Homo sapiens: one gene and its partners. The protein of the gene in region 2 interacts with the protein of the main gene of each other region in a pairwise test. Each region holds a gene or a part of one and is shown on either strand. Other genes may lie near its edges. The genes, in order: ATF1, HNF1B and CRX.

The links.
Region 1: the proteins of HNF1B (region 2) and ATF1 interact in a two-hybrid assay, tested with the Homo sapiens proteins (one study listed by BioGRID).
Region 3: the proteins of HNF1B (region 2) and CRX interact in binary tests that used the Homo sapiens proteins (3 or more experiments, as listed by UniProt).

Annotation. Positions count from the first base shown.
Region 1 is NC_000012.12:50,818,786-50,821,722, reverse strand, and holds the end of ATF1 (cyclic AMP-dependent transcription factor ATF-1), read right to left. Parts: intron 2,089-2,937; coding exon 1,944-2,088; 3' UTR 561-1,943; downstream 1-560.
Region 2 is NC_000017.11:37,689,453-37,693,108, forward strand, and holds part of HNF1B (hepatocyte nuclear factor 1-beta), read right to left. Parts: intron 1-3,656. UniProt on the Homo sapiens protein: Transcription factor that binds to the inverted palindrome 5'-GTTAATNATTAAC-3'. Binds to the FPC element in the cAMP regulatory unit of the PLAU gene. Transcriptional activity is increased by coactivator PCBD1.
Region 3 is NC_000019.10:47,824,792-47,828,447, reverse strand, and holds part of CRX (cone-rod homeobox protein), read right to left. Parts: intron 1-3,656. UniProt on the Homo sapiens protein: Transcription factor that binds and transactivates the sequence 5'-TAATC[CA]-3' which is found upstream of several photoreceptor-specific genes, including the opsin genes.

The DNA of each region.
Region 1 (2,937 bases), on a different chromosome or scaffold from region 2:
TTGATAAGCCCCACATTGGATTCCAATTAGAAAAACACCCAGGAAAATAATTTGTTATGCATTTATGGAACCATTAATGGTTTGCCCTGACCTGTTTCATACAGCTAGAGTAAGTAACTGGGTCTAGTTAGCAAGGCCCTACACCAGAAGTCTGAAGGCAGCAGAGTTTACAAATATTTGCAGATGTCCAGCTGTTAAGGCACTAAGAGCTAGGCTACCTCTGTTGTAAACAAGCACGGTGTCTACCCAATAATATATTATCATCTGTTGAAAAAGTCTTTTGACATAACCCAGTGACCTCATACCTCCTCATATTCTTAGGCCTAACGGGCCACCAGTTTGAGATTCTGGCTTTACACAAGGTAGTAAGTGATATAAGTAATCCCCCTGGCGATCAAACTTTTTTTTCTTTTCATAAAGTGCTGCCAAGTCAACAGAGTCCCATTTTAAAAGACCCTTCTAATGAGAAATTTCATCAGGAGGGTCAAACACAAATGTATCAGTTAAGTGAAGATTTCTACGTAGCATTAGGATAATTAACAGCATGGCCAGGAGCAAGCTTATCATTCATATACCAAGCATTATATTTTACATTCAGTAGACTATCAAATGTCCTTTAATTTCACAGACAACAATATGATGCATACTGTGTAAGAGCACACAATAGTTTTGCAGTACAATTTTAAACTGTATACAAATTGGAATATAGATGTTAAACGCTGGTGTACTGACAGTATTTTTGAATTTTAGATAAACTGCATACAAAATTTACAATGCAAATATTAGCCAATCTGAAAACGTCCCATAATATAAAAATGATACTTTGAGATGCAAATTTTACTAAACTATATAAACATTTAAAATAATCATTAAAAACTCAACATTAGAATTTATAAAGATCAGCTATAAAAATATATTGGCAGTCACTTTTCTTATAAAGGTACCACTCACTACATTACAAAATAGTCTCTAACATAAAATTGCCTTAATAACTATACTATTATAGAATCTGATAAACCTTACATTATTAAATTGATTATAAAATCTTCTTGGAAAAACTTTGGTATGTATCTTCAGAAGGTTTTTTAAAAATAATATTTTAAGGGCCTGTAAACATTCCATTCTATTAAAGCACAGCAGAATAAGTAATGGATATTCAACTGCATACAGAATATAGACTCAAAAAAACAATTTATTATGTATTTGTAGAAAATCATTACCAGAGTAAGCAAAAAAACCAACTATTTAAAAGTATCAAACTTTTAAACAGTTCTTTTTCCATTCTGATAAAAAATGTTATAAAATCACCATACTCCATTCATGTACCTTAGATGCCTTTTAGGATAAGACCTCAAAAATAATTAACCTAGTCTCAAAAATCCATTCAAGTCCAATAACAAACTTTTAAAAACCCACTTAAAAAGACTTGACACTAGAACAAGTATACATAATCAGAACATATACTTTATATATTTAGTAATGTACTAGGTTTTCTCTTACCTTTGTAATTTAGAATTTATTGGCAGAAATTACACACACACACACACATATATATAACTAAAAAAAGGTAAATTTCAGCAAACAAATGCAAACCTGTAGGGTAAATGGATTTTTAAAAAAAATTCAGTTTATCAAATTTCATCTTCTCTGCCATTTTAGATTGGCAACTATTGGTTATTTAGAAAATTTAGACTGCTGAAAGTTCATTTCTTGCTCCTTGAATATGTTTAATTTCTACAAAGCTTCCAGTTGTGCCCGTAGCTTCCTTGAGGTCATTTTCCACTTTCTCCTCTGTCACTAGATATCGTGCGTAAGATATTTATCCTTGATTTGGAAAAGCCTAAATAAAAAGCTTCAGTTTTGACCTTTTAATTTATAAAACTCCACTAGGAAATCCATTTAATTTTTATGCATGTCCACAAAAATATTTTCTTTCTTAGGAATCAAACACTTTTATTGGAATAAAGATCCTTCAAAGTTTTTAACTCTTCTATTAGAGTTTTATTTTGATTTTCCAGGACTGCAACTCGGTTTTCCAGGCATTTCACATATTCTTTCTTCTTTCTGCGACATTCTCGAGCAGCTTCTCTAAATATGAGCATTAAAAAAACAATGTTAGAAAAAACTTCACATTCTTTAAATGGTAAATGTTCTTCAGTAATTTTCCGTGGTCACCTTTTTTTCTCTTTAAAGTATCATCTACACACAGAGAATACATAGATCTTAAGTGTAGAATTCAGTCAGTTTTGGCAATTGTGTATACCTGTATAACCCACACCTCTGTCAAGACAACAGAACATTCCCACTGTCCCAGAAAGTTCCCTCATGCCCCTTCCTGGTCAGCCCCCTTCCAAGCAACTATCGTTTTGATTTTTATCACCAGAGATTAGTTTTTTTCCTATTCTAGAACCTCATGTAAGAGTGTCATACACTATGTACTCTGGTGTCCCTTCACTCAGCCCATCTGAGGTTCATCCATGTTGCTGCATGGGGGTTTGTTCCTTCACACTGCTGGACATAGTTCACTGTATGAATATAACCACCATTTGTGTATCCAGTCTCTTGCGATGTTTCTAGGGTTAGCTGCATAGGCATGTTTTTGTGCCAGTCTTTTTGTAGAAAGGTTTCATTTCTCTTGAATAAATACCAAAGAGTGAAATTATGGGTCCTCTGGTTAACTTCTGACACATGACTTCTTTTATTTAAGTTCAAATTACAAACAATGCTTGAGCAAATACTCAGTTCTGTGCATGTCCTCTTAAAACATTTCTGTGAAGTCATATGTAAGTTTATATACATATAGAAATCGGAAGTATTGGCCAGGCATGGTGGCTCATGCCTGTAATCCCAGCACTTTAAGAGGCCAAGGCGGGCAGATCACCTGAGGTCAGGAGTTCGAGACCAGCCTGGCCAACATGGCAAAACCTCATCTCTACT
Region 2 (3,656 bases):
GGATGGGCTTCCCAGCTATCAAATGTTTGCTCACATAATAAAATGGTGGCAGAGCCCAAAATGTTGTCAAAAGAACTAGAGTTATTTGCCTCCTTCAGAGTCTAAACACAAACATCTGATAAGGGGTGCACTGTGGTCCCTTAGAACTGGAGGCCCAGCACACGCAGCCCCACGGGGGCCTGGCCCAGAAGATCTCTGAGAGACCGCGGGGCCCTCCGTCTGAAAGGTGTGGTAGCTGTGGCAAATGTGAAGGACATCCTTATTCTAAGAGGATTTGTTACATAATGGTAAGAGCTAACATTTATCGACATCCTACTGTGTGCCAGGCACCATACCAAGGGCTTCACAAGCATCACTGCCTCGAGTTCTTACGTCGACCCTTTGAAGTAGGTGATTATCGTGAATTCATTTAACACGTTTGAGTGCCTACTGTGTACTTGGCACTTTTTTAGACACTGGAGATGCAGCTGTAAACAACACCCTGCCCACTTCTTCACAGGCTTTACCTCCTAGTGAAGGCTTTGAATAATAAACAAGTAAACAAATGCGTGCACACACACACACACACACACACACACACACACACACTACAACTTTAGGTGGAGATGAGCACTCCATAGAAAAATAAGCATAGAGGTTAGGGCAGCTTGAGGAAAAAGAGATTAACTTAGATATGGGAATCAGGCGAGGCCTCTTTGAAATGGTAACATTTGAGCTGAATGAAGTGAAGGGGCAAGCATGTAAAAATGCACAGAAAAAAAGAGCTCCAGGCAGACACCACAAATGCAGGAGTCCTGGAGTGGGATCTCTTCAGCCCTGGCACAGCTAAAGCTGAGCGGGTGATGGAGGGAGGAAGGAGGTGAGAACGGCGACACTGGCAGGGGCATAATCACATAGGGTCCTGTATGTCTCTGTTTTAGTTTGGTTGTGATGGAAAGCTATTGGAGAGTTTTGACAGGGGATTGACATGCTTGATGTCTCTTTGTAAGAGATCACTCTGGCGAACAGCCCCCAGTGGGGCAAGGGTGGAAGTGGGAGACAGGCAAGGGCCACCTAAGGAGATCAGGGAGAGACAAGGGGGCCTGGGCTGGGACTAGGGCAGTCCTGATGGGAGTGTGAGAAGAGGTCAGATTTAGGATGTATTCTGAGGGTCCCCTAGTAGAACTTATTGAGAGACTGATGTGATGTGGAGAGAAGAATCAGGGATACTCTCAGCTCTCTCACTTGAACAACTGGTACCAGTTTTGGAAATGGAGAAGCCCATGGGGGAAGCAATTTTGATAGGATGAAATAGGGCAAAATGAAGAGTTCCTATTTTAGGCACGTTGAATTCAAGAGGCTTATTAGATATTTTAGACATGCGTCTGTCCCTGCCGAAGCAGCACTGGATCTGTGAGTGAGCACTCAGTAGGGAAGACCGGACTGTACACAGAATTACAGGAACCATCGGCGTGTACACTTGACCTAAAGCCATGGGACTGGAGGAGATCACCCAGGAGTGAGCACAGATGAGAAGAGGCCAAAGAATGAGGCCCGGGGCCCTCCAACACATAAATATTGGGAAGATGAGTTGCCAGCTGAGGAGATGAGAAGTGGCCAGTGCCGTAGAAGAACCAGGAATGGTAGTATCCCAAACTCCCATGGAAAAAAGGAGGGAGAGATCAGCTGTGTCAGAGACAGAGGTTGAAAAGTAACCATTGGTTTCAGCAGCATGGAGGGGATCGTGAGCTGGACACAGTGAGGCGTGAGGATAAAGGCCAGTCTGCAGTGATCTCAAGAGAGAATTGAGGGTGAGGAAGTGGAGACAGTGAGGACAGATAAGTCACTTCTATGACCATGAACTTATGTGAGATTCATTGTGGCTCCATTAATTAAAAGTCATGATTATAATTCCGGTTTTACAGATGAGGGAAGTGTGGCCTGGAGAGGTGATAAGTAAGTTGGCCGGGGTCTCACAACAGCAAGGCTTGTGCTCTTCACCCCTATGTAAGAGCACTTCTTTCAACCCCCTCAACACGGGGAAATAAATGCCCTTTGCCACGTAAGACCCTTTTCCCAAACTCAGAGCCGCTCAGGGGTGCTAGCAGGGGAAGCCAAGAGTGACCCAGCTTCCATGGGCTGGGTGTTTCCTTTGGGACATGCGCTGAGTGAAGTATTTTACAGGTCTTCGTGCAGTTAGTCCTTTCAGTGATCCCATGAAAGAGGTATCATTATCTTCATTTTACAGGTGAGCAAACAGAGGCTCAAAGAGGCTAAGACATTTCTCTGAGGTCACACAGGTAGAAAGTGGTAGAATGTTGAGCCCAGATCTGCCTAACTCCCAGGTCGATGCTCCCAACCATCAGAACACTCTGCTTCCTCACCCAGTGAAGAAGCTGGGAGAGGAATAGCCGAAGGGGATAGATGATGAGGCCACCCACCTGCCCCCTTGTCAGTGCCCTGACTAGTTACTGCTCTGGGGGCCCTCTCTTCACCTTCCCATAAACTAGGAAGTCAAGCAGCGGGGAGAGAACACTGTGGAAACAGGAGTTGGCTCACAACCTGCCTGCACTTGTTCTAACTGAGGTCAGTGGTTGCTGTGGTCTTGTTTCCAGACTAGCGGGGCATTGTTGAACTCAGGCACAAACCCACTCAGAGATAACTTGCCAGCACCCAAGAGTTGAGAAGGAGGGAGACGTATGTGCTCTGGAAGGGACAGATGGCAGTAGATGCAGAAGGATTCTTGGCGCGAGAAGTCCCAGCCTGGGGTTCCTGACCTGTAATCCCCAAGGCCCTTGGGGCATGTCTGCCTTGACAACAGGAAGTACTGGGATCAGACAGATACAAGTACAAATCCTGGCTTTAGCCTTATACCTGCATAACCTTGGGTTGTTATTATGGGTGCTTAAAAGTGGATATTGGAAGATGAACGTTGTTTAATGAGTTTGGAGTGAGAAAGCCAGTCTGGAAGTCCAGCTCTGGAATTTATGATCTGTTTGAACTTGACCAGATCCATACCCATCTTTGAACCTCAGTTTTCTGCTTTGTAAATCAGGTATAAAAATAACGACCTTGCAGAATGGGTAAGAGGGTTCTCCAGGAAATGTAAGCTAGAAAAGCATCTGGGGTGCTGCTTGGAAAATGGAGGCATCAAAAAACACGGGTTCTGCATTCATTCGTTCGTTCGTTCATTCATTCTTTGTTATTTACTGAACATCTAATATAGCCCAGGCATTTGGCTAAGCCCAAAGGGTATGGGTGCTTTGACAGGCCCTGAACTATTTGCTTTTTTCCTGGGAAATAGGTGAGCAGGGAGTCTGTGTATCAGCAGGAGAATGGGAAACAGGGATCCGGAGCCCAGGCCCAAGAGGTAGGATGTGCTTGAGAGATGGTAGTAATCCTGAGACATTTTCTTCTCCCAGCCTCCTTTGACTGCATGTAGACCAAGCACTGAATTGGATATTGAAAGAGTCACTAGGCCGGGTCCAGTGGCTCACACCTGTAATTCCAGCACTTTGGGAGGCAGAGGCGGGCAGATCACGAGGTCAGGAATTTGAGAGCAGCCTGGCCAACATAGTGAAACCCCGTCTCTACTAAAAATACAAAAAATTAGCCAGGTGTGGTGGCCTGTGCCTGTAGTTCCAGTTACTTGGGAGGCTGAGGCGGGAGAATTGCTT
Region 3 (3,656 bases), on a different chromosome or scaffold from region 2:
AAGAAAAAGAATTAAAAATGGATGGTGTTTATTGTGAGCTCCCACTCTTCCGTTCCTCTCACTGTCCTTTCCTTCTCATCCCTCACATGAGGAGGGGGACAGATTCTGTTTATTTTAAGTTGAGATTCTACTGTTCATTCAGTAAATATTTTTTGAATGCCTTCCCTGCTCTAGGAACTAGGAATATAGGAAGAAATAAGACCGCAGCTTCTCTGTTCTCATAGAATTGAACTTCTTGGTTCCGTTCCTAGAGAAACCAATAACAAACAAGGAAAAAAAAATTTTTTTTTTTTGAGATGAAGTCTCACTCTTGTCCCCCAGGCTGGAGTGCAATGGCTTGATCTCGGCTCACTGCAGCCTCTGCCTCCCAGGGTCAAGTGATTCTCCTGCCTCAGCCTCCCAAGTAGCTGAGACTACAGGGGCCTGCCACCATACCTGGCTAATTTTTGTATTTTTAGTAGAGATGGGGTTTCACCATGTTGGCCAGGCTGGTCTCGAACTCCTGACCTCATGTGATCCACCCGCCTCGGCCTCCCAAAGTGCTGGGATTACAGGCGTGAGCCACCACGCCCTGCCTTTTTTTTTTTTTTTTTTTTTTTTTTTTTTTTTTTAATAAAGATGCCATGGCCAGGAGCAGGGGCTCTTGCCTGTAATCCCAACACTTTGGGAGGCTGAGTTATGAGGATCACTTGAGGTCAGGAGTTTGAGATCAGCCTGGCCAACATGGTGAAACCCCATCTCTACTAAAATACAAAAATTAGCCAGACATGATGATGGGTGCCTGTAATCCCAACTACTTGAGAATCGCTTGAACCCGGGAGGCGGAGGTTGCAGTGAGCTGAGATGGCACTACTGCACTCCAGCCTGGGCAACAGAGCAAGACTCTGTCAAAAAAAAAAAAAAAAAAAAAGCCTTCAGAAAGTTTCAAGAACTCCCAGGAAAATAAAACAGGTTGTTATGAGAGTGAAGGCATTTGGGGTGGGTGAGGCATCTAGGAATTTGTGTGGATCTGGAATAGAGATTTCCAGGCAAAAAAAAAAAATTAAAAAAACAGCAGGTGCAAAGGCTTGGAGGCTGGAATCTCACACCGTCACCCTGAGCAAGACAGGGTCTCCAACTTGGTCTTGTTGGAGAAGAAACAAGGCACCCTGTGTGACCATAGCAGATTGATCATGGAGAAAAGCAGAAAGAACAAGTAAAACCTGGTAGGAATGTCACGAGAAGGCTCAGTGCTGACAATAAAATCAAAAGCAGCTACATTAAATCCCCAAAATCAAACTGCCTCCAAGGTAACTCCCAATAATCCTTACCCCCTGATATTCATGCCCTGTGTAGTCCCTACTAACAAGCTGGCTGACGTGTGTAACCAACAGGATATTGCAGAAATGACAGAGCGTGGCTTCCAAGGCTAGCTCTAAGGAAAGCCAGCCGCCATGTTGTGAGGATGCTCAAGCCATCCCACGGAGAGGTCTATGTGGCAAAGAAATGAGGCCTCCTGCCAACAGCTATGAGAGTAAGCTACCATGGAGGTTAGTTCCCCAGCCTCAGCCAAGCCATTAAGTGACTTCAGTCCTGGCCGACATCTGACCACAACCACATGGAACACCCTGAGCCGGAATAATCCAGTTAAGCCACTCTTGGATTCCTGTCCCTTGGAAACTATAAGAGATCAGAAATGTTTATTGTTTGAAGCTGCTCAATTTTAGGATAAGTGTTACCCAGCAATAGTTAACTAATACACAAGCCTTCTCTATACAGGTAGTCATTAAATCCCCAGCACAACCTTGGGAGGTAGAGACTGTATTACTATGATGCTTACATTTTGGTTTTGGTTTTGGTCTTAGGGACAGCATGTCACTCTGTCACCCAGGCTGGAGTGCAGTGGCACAATCATAGCTCACTGCAGCCTCGACCTCCTGAGCTCAAGCCATCCTCCCACCTCAGCCTCCCAAGTAGCTGGGACTACAGGTGTGCCACAACGCCTAGCTAATTTTTTAAATTTTTGTGTAGAGAGAGGTGTCTTGCCATGTTGCCCAGGCTGGTCTTGAACTCCTGGCCTGAGCAGATCCTCCTGCCTCAGCCTCCCAAATTGCTGAGATTACAGGCATGAGACACTGCTTTTGCCTGATGCTTACAGTTTAGAGAACATCTTCAGGCTCGAAAGTGTGACTTACCCGGGATCACACACAGGCTGGCAGTGGAGAATCCAGGATTTCAAGGCTAGAGTAATTCCTGAAGGTCCTATTCCCCCAGCCCCCTAACCTGGGTTCCCTCTGTCCTCTCCCACTTCTCCAAAAACCAATAATGTTAAATATGAACCTCCAGAGAGTGGAGACAAGGAAACTGGTGAACCTGCCCCACTGGGGACCATTTGCAGGGCCTGGAACAAAAGCACACACTTTCATTGTCTTCGCCGTCAAATCTGAGTCAGATTGCCTGGCTAAGCAGTTAACCTTCCAGGAAAGCCAAGAAAGCTCACATTTACGATCACCACTTTCTGGGTTTTTGTTTTTGTTGTTGTTGTTATTTTGAGACGGAGTCTCTGTCACCCATGCTGGAGTGCAGTGGCGCAATCTTGGCTCACTGCAACCTCCACCTCCCGGATTCAAGCGATTCTTCTGCCTCAGCCTCCCAACCTGGGACAACAGGCATGTGCCATCATGCCTGGCTAATTTTTTTTTTGTATTTTTAGTAGAGATTGGGTTTCTCCATGTTGGCCAGGCTGGTCTCAAACTTCTGACCTCAGGTGATCCGCCCACCTCGGCCTCCCTAAGTGCTGGAATCACAGGCGTGGGCCACAGTGCCTGGCCAGGATCATCCCTTTTAACGGATAGGGGAGAGGAGGCTCAGCAGGAGGAAAGTGTGGGCCCCAGATCAAACAGCTGATAATAATGATAAAGTGCTGCCTAGACAAGATGTCAGCAGAGAATAATAACAATAATAATATTGAACATCCACTGAAATCTTTCCCTGGGTTTGGCAGCAACCTGAGGCAGCTGATGACAGAAGGGCCTCCAGTGAGGGCTGGGCGTGGTGGCACGTACCTGTAATCCCAGCACTCTGGGAGGCTGAGGTGGGAAGATCGCTTGAGCCCAGGAGTTGGAGGCTGCAGTGAGCTATGATCCAGCCACTGCACTCCAGCCTGGGCAACAGAGCAAGATCCTCTCTCAAAACAAAACAAAACAGGCCAGGCCAGTGGCTCAGCACTTTGGGAGGCTGAAGCAGGCGGATCACTTGAGGTCAGGAGTTCAAGGCCAGCCTGGCCAACGTGGTGAAACCCCGTCTACTAAAAATACAAAAATTAGCCGGGCATGGTGTTGTCCCAGCTTCTGGGGAGGCTGAGGTACAAAAATCTCTTGAACTCGGGAGGCGGAGGCTGCAGTGAGCTGAGATTGCACCACTGCATTCCAACCTGGGCGACAGAGCACGACTCCATCCCAAAAAAAAAAAAAAAAAATCAATCAATCGAAAGAGGACCTGTCTCCTGGGGAGGAAAAAAAAAAAAGAATGTCCAGGAATTCATCACTCGGCAGACACTTGGCCCAGGCTTTATATACAAGATCTCACAATGACAACAATTTCCAGACACTGATGTTTTATGATTTCAAGGGGTGGAACAAAGAATATCAGTGTCTCTGCCCTGGGGATCAACCTGG